Regions from separate parts of the Homo sapiens genome. Here region 2 is linked to region 1. The links come from fine-mapping of genetic effects on gene expression. Tissue or cell type: fibroblasts. Region 1 holds a variant in brackets; the other region holds the start of a gene. All regions are shown on one strand. Distances are between the middles of the regions.

Region 1 (8,320 bases):
CATGTTGGCCAGGCTGCTCTTGAACTCCTGATCACAAGTGATCCACCTGCCTTGGCCTCCCAAAGTGTGGGATTATAGGTGTGAGCCACTGCACCTGGCCTAATGGTGGTTCTGATGCAATTTTTATCAAAATAAAGATGCCCATCCTAGGAGAAAATCATTACAAAATGATATGCTTACTATGCTACCATTTTTAATTTAAACTCTATACACATAGATACATAGAAAAAACTAGCCAGGGCCAGGCACGGTGGCTCACACCTGTAATCCCAGCACTTTGGGAGGCCGAGGAGGGCGGATCACGAGGTCAGGAGATCGAGACCATCCTGGCTAACATGGTGAAACCCCATCTGTACTAAAAATACAAAAAATTAGCTGGGTACGGTGGCACATGCCTGTAGTCCCAACTACCAGGCTGTAGTCCAGCTACATGCCTGTAGTCCCAGCTACTTGGGAGGCCAAGGCAGGGGAATTGCTTGAACCCGGGAGGTGGAGGTTGCAGTGAGCTGAGATCGTGTCACCGCACTCCAGCCTGGCGACAGAGCAAGACTCTGTCTCAAAAAAAAAAAAAAAGAAGAAAAAAGTAGCCAGCTACACAAGTGTTTATTACTGGTTGGTGAAATCCTAAGTAATTTTATTTTTCTTTTGCCTTTTTGAGATGGAGTCTCGCTCAGTCGCCCAGGCTAGAGTGCAGTGGTGCGATCTCAGCTCACTGCAGCCTCTGCCTTCCAGGTTCAAGTGATTCTCCTGCCTCAGCTGCCCGAGTAGCTGGGATTACAGGAGCCCACCACCACACCTGGCTAATTTTTGTATTTTTAGTAGAGGTGGGGTTTCACTATGTTGGCCAGGCTAGTCTCAAACTCCTAACCTCAGGTGATCCACCTGCCTTGGCCTCCCAAAGTGCTGGGATTACAAGGGAGAGCCACCGCACCCACCCTTTCTCCCCCTTTTTTTGAGATAGGGTCTCGCTCTGTCGCCCAGGCTGGGGTGCAGTGGTGCAATCATGGCTCACTGCAGCCTTGACCTCCCACGGCTCAGGTGATTCTCCCACCTCAGCCTCCCAGGTAGCTGGGACTACAGGTGTGTGCCACCACGCCCAGCTAATTTTTATTTTTTTGTAGGGACGGGGGTCTCCTTATGTTACCCAGGCTGGTCTCGAACTCCTTGGCTCAAGCGATTTGCCCGCCTCAGCCTCCCAAAGTGTTGGGATTATAGGCATGAGCCACTGTGCCAGGCCAATTTTGTTTTTCTTAACTGTAGATTATTTTCCTAAAATAAACATGGAGGCCGGGCGCGGTGGCTCACACCTGTAATCCCAGCACTTTGGGAGGCCGAGGCAGGTGGATCACAAGGTCAGGAGTTCGAGACCATCCTGGCTAACACGGTGAAACCCCGTCTCTACTAAAAATACAGAAAATTAGCCAGGCATGGTGGCACATGCCTGTAGTCCCAGCTACTCAGGAGGCTGAGGCAGAATCGCTTGAACCTGGGAGGCGGAGGTTGCAGTGAGCTGAGATCGTGCCACTGCACTCCAGCCTGGGTGACAGAGCAAGACTCCGTCTCAAAATAAATAAACAAACAAACAAACAAATATGATTACTTGCATAAGAAAGTCAATAGTCCAAATTATCCTTTTTTTTCTTAAACATTTACTTAATGTCTTAATAACAAAAATACCAGTTTTTTTGAATAAGTGAAAATTAAACATCTATGCTCTCTTTTTGAGGAACCGATGACTTCCAAAGGTGTTTATAAAAGCCAGAACTCTACCAGCGGAGTGGATATAAGACTAAGAGTTAACAAACCACATAAAAGGTGGCCGGGGAGTGGGGGGAATCTTCCCTTTGAGACAAGGAAACAATCAGTTTACTAGGGGAATAGTGGCCTTCTAACAGGTGAAAAGAAGAAAAGGAGACCAAACAACCTGTTTCATCCTCTATAAATAAAACCTTGGGCGGCATATTGCCAAAGAAACATGAGTCAATATAAACCTTTACATACTGGGCGGCCAAACTTCACTTTTGGACAGTATATTAATTATGTAGTCAATAACCATGGGTTTCATTAGTGTATTAAATACCACGATCAATAGTATTTATACTTTTTGAAGACAGCCCACTCAGGAAACAGAAGTGGGGGAGGGGAACATTTTTGACCCTGCAGTTCAAAAAAGGAACAGCACGCGAGAGATTAGCAAGGTTTTAATGGAAAGCATAAAACACTGGAAATATGGACAGAAATCAGATTATTACCCTTTTATTTTTTTCCCTGCCCCTTTCACAATGAGACTGGAGGGAATTCAAGAACCACTTGAAATAAAGGCGAAATGATTAGATTTTTTTCTCCTAATTGCCTAACGCTGATGTCATGGTGTACGCAAAATCAACATTGATCTCTAAGTGAAAGAGGAGAAACAGAACAACATCAACAGCCTTTCGAGGTAAACTGTGGGCCAGAATCTATTTAGGCAACCCGCAGGGACCAAAATCTCTGAAAAGCCCAACAGTGGAGCCAGTTTCTGATGCTCCTCTGCTGGTGATCTGATCTTTGAGTGGGGAAATCTGTTAGAAACAGCCTCCTCGAGGGAGCCCTCCCCCTGGCACTGCCCCTGGGTTCCCAATCACATCCACGGAGACGTGCTGGTTTCATCACGCTGGCCACTGAGAAGGCGCGAGGACAGGTGTCAGCGTTCCCTGGACACGTCCTGTCCTGGTACCACGGCTGGTCAGGCCTCTTCACTGTGTGGACAGACACGTGGGGAGAGGAGGGAATGCTGGGAGTAGTAGGCATGAAAGACTGGTTACTGGGCTGAAAGCTAGATCGCCACTTCCCAGCCACAATTTGTCAATCCAGAAGAGGGTTGAAGACTGTAATTTTCTCGTCGATGCTTTATAAGCAAGGTCAGACAGAAAAGAACTTCCGTAAAAATGGCTGAGGCCTCAGTCAGAGACTGAAATGCGACCCAGTTACCATCTCCTGAGACTAGAGAAGGGTAGGAAGGAATGTGTCTAAACAATTAGTGAGGCTGAGCAGGAGTCCCTCTGTGTCTGTCCTCAGGAACGGAAGTCATCCCGTCTAGGGCTGGCTGGCCCCTATGTCAACGGCAGACACCGAGGGGGGAGACAGACAGGACACCATCACTCCCCATATCCAAAAGCCTCCGCAGGCGGCATGTGCAGTGATGAACAGCAGGTCCTCTGGCTGCAGAGTGACCGCCGCACTGCCGGGGTACGACGGCGAGATGTGCGGCCAATGGCAGGCGGTGTGTTGCAGCCACCGGATAGATAATTAATATGATTAGGAACACACAGAGCGAGCATGCTTTTGCTGACTGAAAGGCCCACTAGCATAATTACTGTTTTCTTACCAGCTCACTGTCTGTACACATTTCAAAGCGTGGTTGGTGTTAGACTGCTGCGTAAACATCAATAAAATCCCAAGTGCCAGATCATCAGCATCCTCAGGCAAAATGGCTTTTTGTTTTTAGTGTTTTCATGCTTTGAAAGATGCATTTCAGGGCTGCAAACACTAGGAAGAAGGATCTCCATGCCTTGGACTAATCTTCGGGTTTATAATGAGTTAACATCCCCCCCAAGTGAACATTTATTATGAAGGCTAATTAATTGCTTTCCAGTTATAGGAACTCTTTGCATTCAAAGAAAGTAGGATTCACAACCAAAGAATATACTGTTTATTAAAACAAAGCAAGGGAAACAAAAGGCTTCAAAATCCTTTCCATGTAACATAGCTTTAGTCAAAAAAAACAAAATACATGAATGCAGGAATGTGTACAGGTAGAAAAAGTACGCACTCACCAAGCGAAGCGCAGCATTAATTGAAGTGAGAAGTAAAGAAACGCTTTGTAGCCGCTCGGATTTCCTTAGGGGACGGCAAGTCAATGCTTATCAGCGGTCCTCAGAAGAGACAATTTTGATTAATATCAGACCCATCTGACTCAGTCTATTAAA[C/G]CCTGAAGGAAGGATACTCTTCAGATATAGAAGATATGCCTTTGATTAATCATTCTACCCTATTGCCATTCCAAGCATTACCAACTATGTAGCACCTCTAGAAAGAGAGAGCCTTCGAATTCTAGGAAGACACACTTACTAAAATCCCCAGGTGCTCATGACCGCTTCTCAGCTCGCCCCGCTGAGAAGAACCCAAGTTGTGAGCGGGGATGGGGGGGGGTGGTCACCACTGGAGAAGCAAAAACCTAGTTACATAATTTACTTCATGGTCTGCAGTTAGGGTCAGTGACTTACGACATAATTCCTGCTTGATGATAATGAAATTGACAGAAGCCTGAAGGCAGAGGGAGTGACTGGTCTTGCGCTAGCCACTGGCTGACTCCGTAGGCCTGACACAGTCTACACCACAACCACCTGAGCGTATTTTCCTTTGCCTACCGATGGGTTCTGAGATGCGCACGAGGGGGGAAATTGCTTAGTCCACCATCAAGAGCCTCTGCACTGTGTAGCTAACATGGGATCGTCACACGGAGGTGGGAGGAAATCGATTCCATTCTGCCTATTTGCAAACTTCTGCCCGATTGGCACTGCTCCTCTCACATCAATGCACTTCTCCTGATGCTCATGACCAGCCTTCGGCCATACTCTCTGTAGTCCACGGGCTTCACGTCCATCACAGTGGCCTTAATTCGAGACTCGTCCTTCAAAAAGGGAGAAGTAGTTTGTGAGCAGTGAAAGTGTGGTGTGGAGCAGTGAAACCCCTTTTGCTTCAGTGGTTTCAGTGAGCCCAGCGGGAGGGAACAGACGCACGGGTTCAGAGTTCAGTCATTCCAGTGAGTGACAGCCTCCTCCTGAATGTCTGGGGCTGGGCGAGTGAACAGGTCCTTTCTCCAGCACAGGCCCTTCTGATTCTTTACCCAAGCTCCCAAACACCCAGAAGCCTAGAATCCTAGTGAGATGGACTTTAGAGGGTTTCTCTAGTTTCATTTATTCTCCCTACTGCAGGGGATACAGCCCAGAGAGGACATGTGACTTGCACAAAGCCACACAGCTAGTTCTGAAAGCTAAACTTTCAAACTTTCATTTCAAGAAAAGCTGAGTGGTGAAAGGAAGAGCACCTGCAGCAGAGGGAGAGGACCGAGTCTGTCCTGTCTCAGCTCTGGGGAGGCAGCCTCTCTTCACTTCACCTTCCCTGTCCAGACACGATGGGGCTGAATGGCCCCAAAAATCCCCCCCAGCCCCACCCCACTCCCTGACATTGTTTCACGGTGACATCTGATCCCCTATCTCATTTAATGTTTATAGTAGTCGCAGAAGAACGGGCGTTAAGGTAAATACGTGAGTAAACCCTGCAATCAGCAGGGGCGTTTCTACCACTCCCCCTGCCCACTCGTACGTTTACACTCACGGCCTGAATGGTGCCTTTCCGGGCAGAACGGAGTGATACCCAGGAAGGCTGCACAGGCGAGCTCGGGGCTGTCACACTGCTGTGTGCTTGGTCGGTACTAAATCCCGTGATACTCGTAAGCATGATCAAAAGCAAAGCTCTGAAGTCAGGCTGCCTGGGTTGGACGTTAGCTCGACCACTTGCTAGCATACAACTTAGGCAAGTGACTTGTTCTCTGAATGCCCGTGTCTCTCTGTATGTAATTCCTTCAGTGGCAAAATAGGGTAACCACAGTTTCTACATATAGGGTTACTAGGCTCAAGTGAGATGTTCCACGTAAAGGATGTAGAACAGTTACCTGGCAGACCATGCTCAATACTGTTTGATTATAACTATAACTAAGCTGGGCGCGGTGGCTCATGCCTGTAATCCTGGCACTTTGGGAGGCTGAGGCGGGTGGATCATCTGAGGTCAGGAGTTCGAGACCAGCCTGGCCAACATGGTGAAAACTCCGTCTCTACTAAAAATACAAAAATTAGCCGGGCATGGTGGCGGGCGCCTGTAATCCCAGCTACTCGAGGGGCTAAGGCAGGAGAATCACTTGAACCCGGGAGGCGGAGGTTGTGGTGAGCCAAGATCGTCCCACTGCACTCCAGCCTGGGTGACAGAGACTCTGTCTCAAATAAATAAATAAATAAATAAATAAATAAATAAATAAATAAATACTATATGGTATTATGGGCAATTTCAGGAATTTTCAAGGTAGTTTTAACCACACGTGGCCTTTGTTTCATATACTGACTGACTGACTTAGAAACGGGGTTTCACTATGTTACCCAGGCTGGCCTTGAACTGCTGCCTCAGTCTCCCAAGTAGCTGGGACCACAGGCACACACCACCACGCCCGGCTCATATACTTAATATACTTTTCTACAATCTAAATTTGTCAAAGATATGACTCTACTGCATGCGTTATAATTTTTTTGTCAGAACACAGACGAAAAAATCCTAGGATTTAACTGAAAAAAAATAAAAATAAAAAAAATAAACAAACAAAAAAATCCATATTGTATTCCCCACCCCCCCGCCATTGTTTCGACAAGACACTTAAGCTCTCTCTCCTTCCTCATCTGAAAATGGGGATCATAACAGCACCTGTGTTGGGCAAAGTCAGCACCGGGGTCTGGCAGTGAGTACAGTAACTCCCTGCCAGGGAGTGTCACGACACTGCCGTAGGTGACAAACAGCACCTCCCCACCACCAACCCTGCTGCCCAGGCCCTTACTTACGTTGTAGGTCTCCACTTTGACCCTGACTCTGAATATGAAAGATCGGAAGTTGGCATTCTGGAAAACTTCTTCAAATGCCTGTTCATTCTGCAAAAACAAACATAAAACTTGACACATGGAAACCACTGGACAACTTGCAAATACTGATAAGACTTTTAAAAAGACTTCTGAAAATGCATCTCCTGGGTAGTTTCAAATTACTTAGGAATGACTCATCTACAGGTAACATTACATGAAACTGTTTTAAGTAGAATCTTATTGAAAATTAAAACACTAATCACATTCATAGAAGGTAGAATGGCAGTTGTCAGGGCCAGGGAGAAGAGGGTTTTGGAAAAGGAGCTATTGCTTAATGTGCAGAGTTTCAAATCGCCACCCATGAACAGTGTGTCTCCATTCTCCCCTTCCCTCCATCCTTGGAAAACACAAGGCTGTCGTCTGTCTCTATGAATTTGCCTATTTAAAAAAGTACTGGAAAAGGATGGTGGTGACAGGGGCACAGTAATGTGAATGTACCTAACGCCACTAAACTGTACACGTAAAAATGGTTACAAAGGCAAATTTGGTTATGTATGCTTTACTAGACACAAAAAATTAAAAACGCTCTTAGGAAGTTTCTAAGACTTTAAGGCTGGGCACGGTGGCTCATACCTGTCATCCCAGCGCTTTGGGAAGCGGAAGCGGGTGGATCACTTGAGGTTGGGAGTTCAAGACCAGCCTGGCCAACACGGTGAAACCCCATCTCTACTAAAAACACAAAAATTAGCTGGGCATAGTGGCAGGTGCCTGTAATCCCAGGTACTAGGGAGGCTGAGGCAGAAGAATTGCTTCGACCTGAGAGGCGGAGGCTACAGTGAGCTGAGACTGCACTACTGCACTCCAGCATGGGCTATGGAGCGAGACTCTCAAAAAAAAAAAAAATTAGGAGGTCAGGTATGGTGGCGCGTGACTATAATCCCAATGTTTTGGGAGACCGAGGTGGGAGGACTGCTTGAGGCCAGGAGTTCAAGAATAGCCTGGGGAACATAGCAAAACCCCATCTCTACCAAAAAAAAAAAAAAAAAAACTTAAGCCAGGTATGGTGGCGTGTACCAGTAGTCCCAGCTACTCAGGAGACTGAGGTGGCAGGACTGTCTGAGCCCAAGAGTTTGAAGCTGCAGTGAGCCATGATCGCACACCACGGCGCTCCAACATGGGTGATGAGGCAAGACCTTGTCTCAAAAAAAAGAAAAAAAGGAAAAACACTCAGAAGAAAGTTCAATATAATTCGTGATTTCAGCCTCTGTATTTATAGCTACTGATTTGGTGTGCAAGCAGAGAAGACTGTTGAGGTGCGCAAAGGCTAGGGAAGGCCTAAAAACAATCCTTTTCCCTCTCTCACTCCTCAAATGCAATTTAAGTTTATTAAAAAAAAAAAAGTCTGGTAAACAGACAAGAATTAGAGAATATAGTTTGTATAAAGATGCATAAATAAATGTGTAATAACTATATTAACAGAGTTGATTGAGACCTTTGACAAAAAAAAAGAAAAACTAATTAATAGTTCACACCAACCTAGTGTTTTTTGCAAGTCACGCACGGCGTGAAAGCAGCTTTGCTATACAGAACTCTTTTCTGTAAAGGTTACTTGATCAAAACCCAAACCCAAACCAAATGGACTTTCAGATATGAAAATA
Region 2 (5,000 bases), 68 kb after region 1:
GTGAAGAACCACCCAGGCAGTGGGCAGAGGGAAAAAAATGTTCAGGGCCGGGTGCGGTGGCTCACTTCTGTAATCCCAGCACTTTGGGAGGCCGAGGAGGGTGGATCACCTAAGGTTGGGAGTTCAAGACCAGCCTGGGCAACATGGTGAAACCCCCGTGTCTACTAAAAATACAAAAAATTACGCAGGTGTGGTGGTACATGCCTGTAATCCCAGCTACTCTGGAGGCAGAGGCACGAGAACTGCCTGAACCCAGAAGGCAGAGGTTGCAGTGAGCCGAGATTGCGCCACCGCACTCCAGCCTGGGGCGGTAGTGGGGGGGTATGGGGAGAAAGAGTGAGACTCTGCCTCAAAAAAAAAAAAAAAAAAAAAAAAAAGGCCGGGCACAGTGGCTCACGCCTGTAACCCCAACACTTTGGGAGGCCGAGGCGGGCGAATCACAAGGTCAGGAGATCGAGACCATCCTGGCTAACACGGTGAAACCCCGTCTCTACTAAAAAATACAAAAAATTAGCCGGGCGTGGTGGCGGGTACCTGTAGTCCCAGCTATTCGGGAGGCTGAGACAGGAGAATGGCGTGAACCCAGGAGGCAGAGCTTGCAGTGAGCCGAGATCGCGCCACTGCCCTCCAGCCTGGGCAACAGAGCAAGATTCCAGCTCAAAAAAAAAAAAAAAAGTTCAAAGGCCCCATGGAAGAAGGTAGGAGTATGGAATATACCAGAAATCTAAATTTAAAAAAAAATGTGGGGGTGACTGGAGAGGTAGGCTGAGAGTATGCTGTGGATGGGAATGGTGGCAGGAACGTATGCTGAGTGGAAGTCAGCAGCTCAGGCAAAAAAAAAGACGGTGCCAGTATGGATGGAGAGAAGCCAGTGGGCTTGATAGATCTACGCAGAGGCAAAATACACTTCACTTCGTGAGGGACTGGATGCCCAGGTAATGGACAATATAGGAGGAATGATTTCTCAATTTCTGGTTAGCACTGAACTGAATAGATAATGGTGCCATCCGTGGAGATAGGGATCAAGAGGCCCAGACTTAGAAAGATAAAGAATTTGCTTTGGGATACGTATACTGAACTTAAAACCCTCTGAAGCATGGAATAAGCAGACAGATGACGGAAGTTTGTCTTTTAGAGTAAAGGTGGCTCTGTACAAAGAAATTTGTGAGCAACTGACATATATTAATAGATGGCAATGGAATTGCCTTGGGGCCAGGCGCGGTGGTTCATGCCTGTAATTCCAGCATTTTGGGAGGCCGAGGCGGGCGGATAACTTGAGGTCTGGTGTTCGAGATCAGCCTGGCCAACATGATGAAACCCAGTCTCTAATAAAAACACAAAAAGTAGCCGAGTGTGGTGGCGCACACATGTAGTCCCAGCTACTCGGGAGGCTGAGACAGGAGACTCACTTGCACCCGGGAGACGGAGGTTGCAGTGAGCCGAGATCGCGCCTCTGCACTCCAGCCTGGGCGACAGTGAGTGTCGCCCAGGCTGGAGAAAAAAAAAGAAATTGCCTCGGGAGTCAAGAGGGCCTAGAGGGAGCCTTGATTCAACAAAAATTTACAAAGAGGGACTTACAAATAAGACGGGGATAGACCTGCCAAGCTGAGCCACTAAAAACCAAGGAAGAGGGTGTGACCTGAAGCAAGCAGGGCTTAAACGCAAACGCTGCTGAGAACTCAGGTAAGCTGAAAACGGAAAAGGGCTGGATTTAGCAACTTGGAGGCCACTGGTACCTTCAGCCAGGGTTTTCTACAGCGATCAAAGGGATGACTGGAGTGGGTTAAAGAGTTGATGAAAGGCGAGGAAAGGAAGTGGCTGAAACCAGACAAGAAGTTTGGCTGTGGGTGGGGAAAGGAGAAGAGACAGAAAGTGTCCGCAGGTGGAAGATGCAGAGAAAGGCAAGCGTTTATTTAGTTTGTTCTTACGTAGGAAAAATGTGAGCATGTTTTAAAGACGATCGAAAGAATGCTTTGAGGAGGGGGCGATGACACTAGAGGGACGCCCGGCGGGTCCCCACCGCCCCCCGCCATCTCCTCCCCTCGCGTTCATCCCCCGTCGCCCCGGGCTCCCCTCCCCCTCTCTACTCCGCGAGGCTCGGGGCCGCAGCCACCCCGGACCGCCGGCCCAGCCCCCGGCACCTCCTCACCGCAATGGCCCCCTCGCTCAGTTGGCCGACCATGGCTCCACCGCCAAGACTTCCCCGCGGACCCCGCAACAGCTCCAGCTTCCCCACCCGGGTCCCGCGCGCTGCGCAGTTATTGGCCCGAGAAGTTGCGCGCACCGCTCCCGCCCCCGACGTGCGCGCGGCTCAGGGGCGGGCCCGGGCGCTACGCAGCCGCCGCATTGGCCGAGGCGCGGCCCACGTGACCCACCCATGGTCCCAAGCGAGGCCTGGCGCGGGACGCCGGACGCGGTGCGGGGCGGAGCGGGGCGCCAAGGGGCGCGCCAGGAGCTGCGCGGGCGCTGGGAGGGAGACCAGGGCGCAGTTCCGGGCGCGTCTGAGCGGTTCTCGAGGCGTTCTCGCCTCGGTCTCTGGCGAGTGCACGGGTTGGTATCCCAGAGGAGGTTAAAGCTGTTCCTTGAGACCTCCGCTGCTAAATAGAGTCGCAGTAGTGACCCGATTCGTCCAGCAACGCGGGGCTGACTTCCCGCCTCCAAGCCCTGAGCTTGGCACCGTGGCGGTGGGGGGTGGGGGTGGGGGGTCTCCGAAAGGGAATCAGACCCGGCCCCCGTCCTTAGAGAAGAGGACAGTGTGTGGGGGCACTTTATGCCGTCAGTAACCCCACCTCCAGGTAGACGTGGTACAGGCCCCAAGGGTGTTGGAATCACAGCTGGGAAATCAGGGACGCCGTCCCGGAGGAGGTGCCATTTGAGCCGAGTCGAAGAACGTGTGGGAATTTTCCAGGTGGACTCCATAAGCCAGGGTAGGGTTGGTCCGGAAAGCATGAGTAGCCTATGCCAAAACATTGGAGAGTTGAAATAGCCTGGCAAGCCGGGGATAGCAATGAGTTGTTCAGTATGCAAGGGTGCATGCAGAGGAGTAAGTGACACCTGAGAATTAGAAAGTCAGACAAGGGTCAAGTAAGGATGGTTTTGTCCTGGGCTTCCTGGTATGCTTGGAGTAGCGTTGATGAATTTAAGGGCAGAGCACTGACTTCTGTCTCAGTGTTGGAGGCTGGATTGAAAGTGGGGAGTGGTGCCAATGGCATGGACATTAATTATAACACTCTAGGAAGAATGCCAGACGAGATGGTGAGGACTTAATCAGAACGCTGAACTATGTAAGAGAGGGAAATACCTTGTTAAATGAATAGTTGCTGGGGTGGGTGAGAAAGAAAAATCTGGGATGTGTCTCAGAGAAACTAGAGAGGGATCAGGCCGGGCGCGGTGGCTCACGCCTGTAATCCCAGCGCTTTGGGAGGCCAAGGCTGGCGGATCATCTGAGGTCAGGAGTTCGAGACCAGCCTGGCCAACATGGTGAAACCCCGTCTCTACTAAAAATACAAAAATTAGCCGGGCGTAGTTGCGCGCATCTGTAATCCCAGCTACTCGGAGGCTGAGGCAGGAGAATTGCTTGAACCTGGGAGGCGGAGGGTGCAGTGAGCCGAGATGGTGCCACTGCACTCCAGCCTGGGTGACAGAGCAAGACTCTGCCTCACAAAAAAAAAAAAAAGAGGATCTAAGAGCACAGATGGTAGCTATCTAGTCTGCTTCGTCTTTGTATAACCATCACCTGCATGGTGCCTGTGACAAAGTAGTCTTTCAGTAAATATTTCTGAATGGAAGGATGTTGAGTGAATTGCTGTGAGAAAATATAGATCCTTCCTTAGCATATAAACTAGAGGAAAAGACCACAAGAATTGATTTTATTGTTTCAGGCTTCCTTGAATGAAATCTTGATTTTCCTTTTTTTTTTTTTTCCGAGACAGAGTCTTGCTCTGTCACCCAGGCTGGAGTGCAATGGCGTGATCTCAGCTCACTGCAACCTCCGCCTCCCCAGTTCACGCAGTTCTCTTGCCTCAGCCTCCCGAGTAGCTGGGACTACAAGTGTGCGCCACCACACCTGGCTAATTTTTTTGTAGTTTTAGTAGAGACGGGGTTTCACTGTGTTAGCCAGGATGGTCTCCATCTCCTGACCTCGTGATCCACCTACCTCGGCTTCCCAAAGTGCTGGGATTACAGGTGTGAGCCACCGTACCTGGCTGAACTCTTGATTTTCTAAAATTGTGCATTTGTAAGATTCCTATTTTCTTACTCATTTTATAGATCAAAAGCAGCATGGATCTGCCTGTGGATGAATGGAAATCATATCTGCTTCAAAAGTGGGCTTCACTCCCGACGTCTGTTCAGGTCACAATTTCTACAGCAGAGACCTTGAGGGATATCTTTCTTCACTCCTCTTCACTTCTTCAGTAAGTAAATCAAGCTTTAACAAGGGAATTGTGAGCCAAAAAATGTTCTATTTTGTCATTTGCTCTGAAGTAATGTGTCTTTTTCTTAAATAAAGATTGAGTCTTGCTTGTTTCCCAGGCTGGTCTCAAATTTCTGGGCTCAAGCAATCCTCCCACCTTGGCCTCCCAAGGTGCTGGGAGTACAGGCGTGAGCCACCATGTCTGGCCTGGTAACATCTCTTTTTGATGGAAAATGCCTGAAGTACTTTTCCTGGTTCGTTTCTATCCCAGCGTGTCCTGTGAACTAATTCACTTCTGTCATCCTGCAGGATTAGCCAGATCTTTCCTCAGGAAAGCTCTCCCTGAGCCTCAGCTGGGCCATCTTCACTCTTTGTACATTTACAATGCTGTGTGATTTTCCTTTATATATGTGTGTGCTCTTTTGACTAATGCCTGCCTTTGCCGCTAGATTGTGAACTTCATGAGGGAAGGGACCGTGTTTGTATTTGTTTTTCTTTTTTTTTTTTTCTTTTTTTCTTTTTCTTGAGACTGTCTCGCTCTGTCACCCAGGCTAGAGTGCAGTGGCGCAATCTCAGCCCACTGCCT

Alleles and levels. Alleles are on the strand shown, and positions count from the first base shown. SD is a standard deviation of normalised expression in the study named.
In carriers of allele C in region 1, the expression in fibroblasts of the gene that starts at base 2,271 in region 2 tends to be lower than with G alone (small effect, 0.26 SD a copy in GTEx).

Evidence for each region. PIP is the estimated chance that this variant, and not a neighbour inherited with it, causes the effect.
Region 2: it holds the start of RPA1, and the variant in region 1 is fine-mapped to the expression of RPA1 in fibroblasts (GTEx, PIP above 0.99).

The regions. Positions count from the first base shown.
Region 1 is chr17:1,893,420-1,901,739 of GRCh38, reverse strand. RPA1 (replication protein A1) reads right to left here. Exons shown (of 17, transcript NM_002945.5): 16 at 6,645-6,731; 17 at 1,658-4,669. The coding sequence ends at 4,565. Among named protein-coding and RNA genes, the nearest start is that of RPA1, 68 kb to the right of the region's middle. The variant C/G (reference allele first, on the strand shown) is at 3,969.
Region 2 is chr17:1,827,276-1,832,275 of GRCh38, reverse strand. It overlaps RPA1 (replication protein A1), which reads right to left and starts at 2,271. Exons shown (of 17, transcript NM_002945.5): 1 at 2,150-2,271. The coding sequence starts at 2,182. SMYD4 (SET and MYND domain containing 4) reads left to right here and starts at 2,374. Exons shown (of 11, transcript NM_052928.3): 1 at 2,374-2,550; 2 at 4,270-4,415. The coding sequence starts at 4,282. RefSeq lists an enhancer at 875-1,375 and a silencer at 2,003-2,522.